Linked DNA regions of Homo sapiens: region 2 is linked to region 1. The links come from fine-mapping of genetic effects on plasma protein levels. A gene starts in region 1. The other region holds a variant in brackets. All regions are shown on one strand. Distances are between the middles of the regions.

The links. A credible set is the group of variants that fine-mapping cannot tell apart. PIP is the posterior inclusion probability: the model's chance that the variant is causal. Protein levels are from antibody-based Olink assays in UK Biobank. Linkage for the fine-mapping came from a reference panel and not from the study's own genotypes, which makes the PIPs less certain.
Region 2: its variant is the best candidate, but not a certain one, in a credible set for the plasma level of the CD6 protein (UK Biobank, PIP 0.76).

Annotation. Positions count from the first base shown.
Region 1 is chr11:60,967,575-60,972,947 of GRCh38, reverse strand. It overlaps CD6 (CD6 molecule), which reads right to left and starts at 1,268. Exons shown (of 13, transcript NM_006725.5): 1 at 1,034-1,268. The coding sequence starts at 1,082.
Region 2 is chr11:61,012,965-61,018,337 of GRCh38, reverse strand. It overlaps CD6 (CD6 molecule), which reads right to left. Exons shown (of 13, transcript NM_006725.5): 7 at 4,775-4,915; 8 at 4,324-4,419; 9 at 2,503-2,625; 10 at 788-859; 11 at 325-579; 12 at 1-49. Among named protein-coding and RNA genes, the nearest start is that of LINC02954, 40 kb to the left of the region's middle. RefSeq lists enhancers at 4,744-5,333, 5,334-5,373. The variant G/A (reference allele first, on the strand shown) is at 2,702.

The DNA.
Region 1 (5,373 bases):
AAACTCCAGTTCCCAGAGCCGAATGGCTTTCCCTGAACCAGTATGAGGCCACAGGCTCGGAACACATGCCTGGAGATCAAGGCAGAGAGGAGAGCACTCCCTGCCCAGAGTCTCGCGACATGTACCCAGTCCTCCAAACCAGCTCGATGCCCCCTCCTGACTGGGTCTTCCTGGGTCTCCTCCATCACAAAATGAAAGCACTTGGCTCTCTGGCTGCAAGGTGGACCCAGACTCCCCTGGCCCGAATTCTGTTTCCATACCAGTCTTCCCAAATCCCAAAATGTGAGAGCTCGATGGGGTCAGGATCTCTTGCATCTCCAGGCCCCTGCCCCGCTCTGGCCAGCTTGGACCCTGCACTCAACAGGGGCCAGCAAGTATCTGGGGAGCACAGTCTAGTGCCCCAAACCTTCTGGCCATCTGATTCCCTGGCCCAGGTGGCCAGGTGCCTTGACACTTGGGGGCAGCTTGAGACGTGGGGGTGGCCTTCATGCTCGCTTATGCCCTAGACTACCCCAGCTGGTTGTGCTGAGGCCATCAGCGCCTGGTTGTCCAGAACTCTCCCTGGCTTCCCTGAGTCCTGTTTCGGGAGGTGCTCTCCTGTGATTGGCCTACGCCTGCTGGACCCCAAGCCTCAGCTTTGGCGTTGAAAGTACCACCATCAGTGGTCCTGCCTCTCTGGAAGGTGAACGGTTCCTTCTTAAGAGTTGGCAAGAAATAGGAAATGGGGGAGTTCCTGAGCTTAAGGATGGGAGAGGCACCTCCCTCCTCACACCCTAGGGACCCATTGGTAAGGCACAAAGCATGCTTCCCACATTCTGTCACTCCAGGAGGCTTCCAGGCACAGCCCCAGCCCCTCGAGGGGCTCCTGTGTCCTCTCCTAGCCCCAGATGCTGGACCTCCCTGGTACCTGAGTGTAGTCTTGGCTAAAAGATCCTAGAAAAGTGACCACAAGGAAACAACCAGAAAGGGGACTGAGAGGGCCGGACCCGGCTCCTCCAGCACCAGTGGCAGGAGATGAGGGAAGGGGGCCTACCTGAGAGGGCTGCCGTCAGCAATCCAGTGATCCCGAAGAAGAGCCACATGTCTGGAGCTGTCTCTGGCTGCTACGCGTGGCTGCCTGTGGGAAGCACCATCTTGGGGCCGGGAGGTGGACACGGCCGTTGTGCGCCCCTGGCGCAGGTCTGCTCTACCCTTTGCTGTTCTTGTTCCTGTGTCTCTCTCTGCTCTCTCCTCTCCGACACGCATGCGATCAAACCCAACCTGTGAGTGTCTCACGCCTGCTTGTTCTGCTTGTGGTTTTGGTCTGCAGGAAGCTGGGCTGCTGTTACAGGGGCTGGTGGGGAGAGCCCCAGCTGCCTGTGCTGGGAGCCCACCCATCCAGGCTGCACCCCAAGAGTCACGGAGCCAGACACACGCATGCACACGCATCCATGCAGACACACTTCCCCGAGGGTCTTCTAAGAAGAAGGGAAGTGGAAGAGCCATGCCTCATTTCTGGTGGCCCAGAAGAAAAAATTGATAATGTAGTAGCTGCTCAATCAGTACATATTGGAAGAGGGAGTGAATGACCCATTGCCTGTCCCGGTCCGTGTAATTTGGCTCTCTTGGATTAAATCCTGAGTTTTATCTTAACCTTAGGTGCAATGGTGGTTGGGAAGGAGGGTGTGGTCTTGATGCACTTTTGGAGATAAGAGCCTAAGTCTCCCCTCAGAGAAATATAAATTGGGAAGGGCCTGAGAGATGGCCATCCCACAAGTCCTTCTACAGGGAAGGGTGCCAAGGCCTTGTGGGAGCCGCCCCGTCAGATGGCACAGTGGGGCCAGCTATCCCATCTCCAGGTACCAGACTGGGCATGCCTCCGTGGGAGTCAGGCATGGGAGCTGGGTCTACAAGGCTGAGCAGGATTTTGACAAACAGCAATCATGGGAGGCCTCTGGGCCAGAAGGAATAGCAGGAGCAAAGGGCTGAAGGAAGGAAGCCCAGGGCTGCCTGAGAAACCCCGAGTTGCCCCATTGCACTGCAGCAGACTGACGCTATAGGAAGAAGGCAGGGGCCAAGCGTGTTTAATTCCCATGGTACTCCCTGTGGAGCATATGGTAGGAGGTGAATAAATGTTTATTGAATGAGAAAAGGAATAGATAATTTGGTTGTCCAAGCAGGGCCCTGGAAGTGGTCAAATCCAGAAGGGGTTTGGTTCCAAATCCTGGCCCTGCCTCAATTGGTCCCATCCCAGGTCCACCTCTCCTGGCCCTCCACTTCCTGCATCCTTGCTTGTCTTCATTTCCCCAACATGTGGAATGAGGAGCGGTCCTCCTCCATTGGGTTCGGTCCTAAATGTGGGTGTATGCATTTGATGCGGCAAGTATTAGAGCCACGGGGAACCAGGCGCCCCCAGAGTGAGACTCCTCCCAGTCCTGCCCCAGCGCCGGCACCTGCTGCCGCTGCCCTCTGGTGGAAGTCACTGGCAGCACAGGTTTGCATGGGTGCCTCGAGCTCCCAGATGCAATTCCATTCATTTACACAGTCTTGGTGTGCAGAACTCTGGACAGGACTCTGTGGAAGTGAAAGAGAGGAAACCATATTCCTGCCCTCAAGGAGGATGAAGTTCACACACACACAAGTGACCAAACCACAGGCCAAGGTAGGACACACATAATGTGAGGTCTCCTGGTCCTAAGAGGAACCCGTTTGAAATGGGCCGGGAAGGATGGCTAGACTCCATTTCTGACAATATGGTAGACAGCAGATGCTGAAGAATTCTCCTAATACAAAACACCACAAAAATATTGTAAACCATCTTTTAAAATGTGTAGCTGAGGTGGTGAGAAATGAAGAAAATCATCAGAGATCAAAAACGACAATAAGCCTGGGCAACATGGTGAAACCCTCTCTCTGCAAAAGGTGCAAAAAATTAGCCAGGTTTGGTGGCACACACCTGCGGTCTCAGCTACTCAGGAGGCTGAGGTGGGAGGATCGCTTGAGCCCAGGAGGTCAAGGCTTTAATAAGCCAAGATTGCACTGCTGTACTCCAGCCTGGGCAACAGAGTGAGACCTTGTATATGTTAATATATAAAGACAACAAAAATCCAAAGAGATCACAGCCAGCAGAGAAGTATCTGTTGATCCAGTTGACCAAGAGCTTCAGTCTTATGAACATGGACAAAAGTTAAAGCTGAGAAACAAAATCGAAGTGAAAAACAAAATCCAAAATTTCTGCCTTAAACAAAGAGCACTGAAATACAACATCCACAGTGGAGAACTCGGAGAGAAAAATTCCTTAAAGCGAGCTGACACAGAGCTTGCCCAACTCAGTATGGACTCTGAGTGGGAGAAAAATAAATGTCAACCCTGAATGCCCCTCACCACAAGTCTACCCACTAATAGGCCTGGAGGTGAAACTCATGGTGACTTTGTGGCAAAAACAACCACACAAAAAACAAACAAACAAAAAGATAAGATAAGAATTTAAAGTAAGGTAAATAATAGCTCCTTAGGCACGTGGCAGAAACAAATGATAAAAATTGTCTCTGGAGTAACTCATCCTATATTCATGACTCAAAGAAATCCCACAGAAAAACTCCCATGGAACATGAGTTCACATGTTTGTAAAACAGAAAAATCATAAAACACAGGACACAAGGTGCTTTAGGTGAGAGGAGCACCAAGCAATAAACTAAAAATGCAGACCTTCGAACACATCTCAGATGTTGGAATTGCAGTATATATAATATAAAATAAGGATGTTTCATATGCTTCAAGAATTAAAAGTTGGTAATTGAAAGTATAGATAAGGAACAAGAGACTATTTAAAGTGACCAGGAAGATTGAGGGAAAAAAAGCAAGCAGTTATGTAAAAACATAATTTTTGAAAATAGAAGCCCAGTGTACAGATTAAACAGTAGATTAAGGCTCAGCACTTTGGGAAGCTAAGGCAGTCTGATGGCTTGAGGCCAGGAGTTCAAGACTAGCCTGGCTAACACAGTGAAACCCTGTCTCTATTAAAAATACAAAAATTAGCCAGGTGAGGTGGCACATGCCTGTAGTCCCAGCTACTCAGGAGGCTGTAGCACAAGAATTGCTTGAACCCAGGAGGCAGAGATTGCAGTGAGTCGAGATTGTGCCACTGCACTCCGGCCTGGGTGAGAGTGAGACTCTGTCTCAAAAATAAATAAATAAATACATACATAAAAATAAACAGCAGATTAATATGGCTGAAGAGACAACTACTGGGGTGAACAATAGATTTGAAGAATTTACCCAGGATGGAGCACAGGAGGACAAAGTGGTGGAAAATATGAAAGAGGCTAAGAGACATAGACAAGGAACAAGGATTTAAATATGTCTAATTAGAGTTCTAGAAGAAAATGGAAAATTTCTAGACTTGATGAAAGACACAATCCTCAGATTCTGGAAGCTCCCCCAACCCAAGCATGATAAATAAAAAGAAATCTACACCAAACATTTTTGGTAGCAAAACTGCTGATCACTAGACAGAAGATGGATGAATGATGAAGTAGATGGGCAGCTAATATGTCAATACCAATAACTAAAGCCAGAAGGCGATGGAACAACATCTCAAAGTACTAATAAAAAAATAACTGTCAACCTTGACTATCTTTCAAGTATAAGGTTTAAAAGACACATTTTCAGATGAAAATTGAGAGCATTTATAGCTAACAGACTCTCACCTAAGGGAATTCTAAAGGATGTTCTTCAAAAACAAGAAAAATAATCTCAGAAAAAAAAGTCTAAGATTCAAGTAAGAATGGTGAGCAAAGAAATATGTAAACACAGAAGTGGATTTAATAAGCACTGATAGCATAAAATAATTACAAAAATGTCCACTTTGTGGAGTTAGAAAAAAATGAAATAGGCTGGACATGGTGGCTCATGCCTGTAATCCCAGCACTTTGGGAGGCTGAGGTGGTTGGATCACTTGAGGTCATGAGTTTGAGAACAGCTTGGCCAAAACGGCTAAACCCCATCTCTACTAAAAATACAAAAATTAGCCAGGCGTGGTGGCTCGCATCTGTAGTCCCAGCTATGCAGGAGGCTGAGGCAGGAGAATCACTTGAAACTGGGAGGTGGAGGTTGCAGCGAGCCAAGACTGCACCACTGCACTCCAGCCTGGGCGACAGAGCGAGACTCTGTCTCAAAAAAAAAAAGAAAAAAAAATTAAAAAAGAAAAAAAAAATGAGATAAAACTAAAGAACCATAAAACAATAACAAATTGGTGAGGAGTGATCAGAGTGGGAAAGGTCTATTATTTGGTGGGAGGGCAAAATATTGACTAGCATTTGACCTTGTTCAATTAAACATGCATGTTAAACTAGTTGAACAATAAAATGGAACTTGTTGGGGAGAGAAGCCTGC
Region 2 (5,373 bases), 45 kb before region 1:
TACCACTCCCCGGATGAGGTGCTGGAGCTGTCATCAGCCGGGGGCCCTGCTGGAAACCCCCAGAACCAGTCACCCTCTGCCAGCACACAGCCACTTCTCAAGTTGCCAGAGCTGGGGGGCCCACGTGACTCACGAGAGCCAAGTCCCTAGCTTGGCAAATGACAAAGTGAAGGCCCAGAGATGGGAGATGTGTCCAAGGGCACACAGCGAATGGCTGCGGAACTGGGTAGAATCCTGACCTCAGCCTGACTCAGGGCTCCCAGCTTTATGCCTCCTCCAGCCAGGCTGGCTATGGGATGGGGGTTTGGGGGAGGCACAGCTTACCTGAAAAGGCTGGCTGGGTGCCGGCCAGCTCCAAGTTTGGGGGCTGCTCCAGGAAGGAACTCCTCTCTGAAGAAAACACCTGGGGGTTCCATGGAGGCAGCTTGCTTTTGGGACTATTGCAGTAATCCTCCCCTGAAGAGGTGCTCGACTCACTGTTGCTCCTCGGGTGATACTGAGGGCCCAGGGATGGCGGGTCTGTAATGCAGTGTCCAGGGTTGGCAGTTGGGATGTGGGAGGCATGCAACTCTTCAAGTCCTAAGGCAGGAAAGGGAGAATGGTGACGAAAGAAGCAGTGCAGCAAGAGGGCTTTAAGTCAGACTTCAGAAAGCACTTACTGCCTATAGGATTTGTGAAAGTCAGGAAAGACTCATTGAGGGAGGTTCCTGCTGGAAGGTCTCAAGCTGAGCTGAGCTACTCTCTGGAGGTGGGACTGCCATTCACACCCCTTCCCATCCTGACTCACCTTCCTCCAAGGGTGGCATCTGGAACCTGCTTTGCTGGACCTCCTCATCTGTGACCCGATGCCGCTGGGAATCTGCAAGCAGAGGCGGTGGTGGGGAGGGGTGAAGGCTCAACCTCATCATTTAGGAGCCTGGAGAAGAGGCTGGATTTCCCGGGGCCTGGGTAGGCTGAATAGGGTGGGAGGACAACTCCGGAGGCAGAGAGGGCTTAGCATTTCCCATCAAATTCCAGGTTCATATCCCAATCCAGCAGAGCCTTCGCCTTAATCTAGCCTGGGGACAGAAACTCTAGTGCCCTACAACCCCCCAGCCCCCAGCCCCAGCTGTCCCTCCTGCTACTTAGAGAGGTATCAAGAGTCTTGGTTCTGTCCTTGTGACCTGGCAGCTCTGGGCAGGAGAAGGACAGATGTTTGCTCCTTCAAGAAGCCTTCCTAGAGTGAAACCCAGATGGTCTGGAATCACTGCATCACAGGCTCTGTGGCACCTTCACGTTTCAGAATCAGAGATTTATAGAGTCTTGAGGATATGAGTGTCTGGGATCTTGGAGTCAGCTCTTTTGAACCGGGTACCACTGACTTTTAATTTCAATGTTATAGCACTGTGGACTCTCAGTCTTGCATCTTATATGCCTGGGCTCGGAATCTCAGGTTCGACAGACACTTCATCCCTGTGGCGCCCAAACACTGGTCCACAGGCCAGAAGAAGTGGAATCATCCGTGTCCCACCCCCAGAAGCCCTGGGTTAGCAGGCGGGGCAGGGACGGCTGTCTGTTCCCCAATATCCATTCTGGCTTTTATCTGGACACAGCTGCCCAGGACAGAGCCTTCGTTTCCCTGCCTCTCTTGCAGCTAGTGGGTTTTCGTTCTGGGTGCTGGGTTGTGAGCGGGAATCTGTGGCCATCTCCAGCATCCCATCGTTCCCTTGCCCTTGCCTGGAATGTGGACATGGAGGTGAGCCATTCTGGACCATGTAGATGAAGGCAACATCTTAGGGACTGCACAGCAGCAAGAAAGAAGGGGCCTGGGCCCCTGCCAACCTCTCAAGACACTGTCATTTGGAGCTTTCTGTCACACACAGCCAAATTCTCATCCTGACTGATAACATTAGGTGTGGGGAGGGGCTCAGGAATTTTTGACAAGCTCCCAAGTGATTCCACAATAAGGTGTGGGACGCTCTGGTCTATTCCAACCTCCCAGCATTGCCAGGGAACTGCCTTCAGCGTTATCTTTCCTCTTCCTATCCCCAGAAGGCAATGAAAAGAGCTGGCTATGAGGCACAAGCTGGCAAGAGCGTGGAGGTGAGGAAGTGAGTGGGGCTGATGGGGTCAGACAGGGCAGGATGGGACACGGAGGGATATGGCATGCGAGAACCCCTGCCAACTGTGTCTCTCATCCGCACTCCCCCGCTCTCACACAGAGAGCCATCTTCAGGTGAATGTCAAAGGCCTGGTCTTAAGACCTTACGTGGCCAGAGACAAACATGGGAGAGACAGAGGTCAGAGTGGAGATGTCCTGAGACATCGAGATGACCCCAGGGTCACAAAGCACGGTGCAAACGTCAGTGTAGGACCATTTACAGTCAATCCAGTGGGTAACCAGGGGGATTCTGTCTGCATCATGCAGGGGTTACTAGGTGGGACTACTGACCTGACGGTCCCCTCGGGGCCCCCTCCCAGATTCAGGTAGGTGGGCCCTCGGGAGCCCGGCCAGGCACTCACTGTAGAAGGTGGTCAGGGCCACAGGAGGCTGGGCGCTGAAGTCATAGTGCTCATAGTCTGAGTCCGAGCCAGAGTCTGAGTCCTCAGGGGGCGGGGCCTGGACCTGGATGGGCAGCATGAAAACTGGGGAGAGAACAGAGTCGAGGGCATGGCAAAGTGGTGGGCGGAAAGGTGTAGGGAGGGATGGTAGAGTATGAAC[G/A]GCAGAGGTGAGAGGCAGAGTAGCAGGGGAGCACCAAGTAGCCCCCTTTTTTTTTCTTTCTTTTCTGGGACAGGGTCTCACTCTGTTGTCCAGGCTGGAGTACAGTGGTGCCATCACAGCTCACTGCAGCATTGACCTCCTGGGCTCAGGCGATCCTCCCACCTCAGCCTCCCGAGTAGCTGGGACCACAGGCATGCACCATCACGCCCAGCTAATTTTTGAATTTTTTGTAGAGACAGGTTTTCACCATGTTGCCCAGGCTGTTCTCAAACTCCTGGGCTCAAGCGATCCATCCCCCTCGGCCTCCCAAAATGCGGGGACTACAGGCATCCACCAGTGTGCCCAACCTGGGTAGCCCATCTTGTACAAGCCACCCAGTCTGAAGTTTCTAGGCTGCCTTCGTTCATTTCCAATATGGAGAACTAAACATTTATTTAGCAAACGCTTAACACAGCACTTACTATATGTGAGGCACTATTCTAACACTTACAAGTATTACCTCATTTAACCCTCATGATAACTCTGTGAAGTGGGTACATTATTATCCCCATTTTGCCTTGGAGGGAACTGAGGCACAGACAGGTTCTTACCTGGCCCAGAGCCGGCAGTCTGGCTCTAAACCTCTAGACTGTGCTATTCAGTGAGCAGCTGCCTTATGCTAAGCCTTATGCTAGATGCTGTATTCACATTCTCTTTTCATATATATGGACTCTCTGTGCAAAGGATATTTATAATATTTGGCTGAGTTTTGTATTGGTTTTTATGTCATTGAACTCTTTCCGATAAAGGTGATTGAATACATTCATAATGCAAGGTGATTAAGCTCAAATTCCTCTGCAAGAGGTATAAATCCATATATCATAAAGGATGAATGACTGAACCTTTTCTTTTTTTTTTTTTTTGAGACAGAGTCTTGCTCTGTCGCCCAGGCTGGAGTGCAGTGGCGTGATCTCGGCTCACTGCAACCTCCGCCTCCCAGGTTCAAGCGATTCTCCTGCCTCAGCTTCCCAAGTAGCTGGGATTACAGGTGCACGCCACCACACCTGTCTAATTTTTGCATTTTTTGTAGAGACAGGGTTTCACCATGTTGGCCAGGCTGGTCTCCAACTCCTGACCTCAAGTGATCTGCCCACCTCAGGTTCCCAAAGTGCTGGGATTACAGGCGTGAGCCACTGTACCCAGCCCCAATTTGTTTTTTTGTTTAGAAAATATGAACTATGAAATAAAACCACATTCTAGGAGAATCTTGATGGGGCTTCGCAAGGCCAATTGGGCAGGACATTGATAGGGATGATGATATCACAAGCCTACTAGCCAACTAGCAGAGCAAAGCAGAACAGAGCTTTCCTCTGAGAACCAAGATCTAAAACGTGCTTTGCCTGTATTTGTCCAGAACTCAAAACTCTATAGAGTCCTAGCATGACTGAACTGGAAGGTCATCTGCCCTTCAATGTCCAGGGACGACTTGAGCCTGCTCAAGGTCCCAGGGCCGGGAGTGGGCTGGCCCAGATCTCATCTCCAGCTGTGTGTACGTCTTGGACCTAAGTGGTGCTGACCTTCCAGAAAGCTCACCCTTCTTGTCCTCCCCAGCCCTCCCACACCCAGGATGGGGGACATCCTACCTTCTTTGGGGATGGTGATGGGGACCGGTTGATAGCTATTGCTCCCTGCCGGGATGGTGGTGGGTAGGTGCTGGTGGTTCACCATTACGGGGAGGGCTGAGGGAGGGGAGGCAGAAATTCTACAAGTCATTTTTTTGCCCTCTCCCAGTCTACCTGGTTCCGTTCTGTTCTCATCGACACACCACCCTCCTCATTCCCCCAACACTTGCAGGCACATGTGCGCGCGCACAAACACACACACAAACACAGGCACACACACACATGCACAGTCTGGTTCTCCCCGCTGGTGCGTCCATGACTGCTGGGCATGCTGGGAAAATCCTTTCCACCTTGGGGATCTCCCCAGGGCCAGGGCCGGGTGGTCATTGCTGGACCACGCCACTGCTGCTGGGGTTCTGCCAAGGCTCACATCCCCCTGGGATGGCCATGGCTCCCAGAACCTTGCACTTACCATATTTTCCTTTAATTCTCAAGAGGATGAAGGCTATGAAGATGAGGGAGCCAAGGAGGAGAATTCCCAGAACGATGGAGGGGATGAGGAGCATTAGCTCCCGAGATTCCTTGTTCTCTATTTTCACTGTCACAGAAGATTCTGGAAACAAGAATTCCAATTCAGGAAGAAAGAGGAATGGGCACTCACCCTTCTTCTTGCCTTTCCATTCTCTGTAAAGCTGACCTGCTTCCCTTTTTATGTTATCTTCCTCCTTGCTTCCTTTTTCCAATTTTCTCATTGCTTTTAAGTGTGTGGTGTATATTAGGCGCTCAATAAATGCATATTGAATGCATGAGCAATTGATTAAATGAATTACTGCCTGAAATAGAACTCTGGCCACCAGGCTGCAGAGATCTATCTGTCTGCTAGCTCTTCAGTATGTAGTCTTTGTTCAATAGACAACTATTGAGTACCCGCTGTGTGCCTGGCCCTAGACCCTGGGGCTACACATAAGACAACAGTATCACAGGCCTTGAGGGGCTTTGTCTAGCGGAGAGATCAATAAGTAACCCAGTCCAGTATGATGAGGCACCCGCTGTGATGGAGGTTTGAACAGC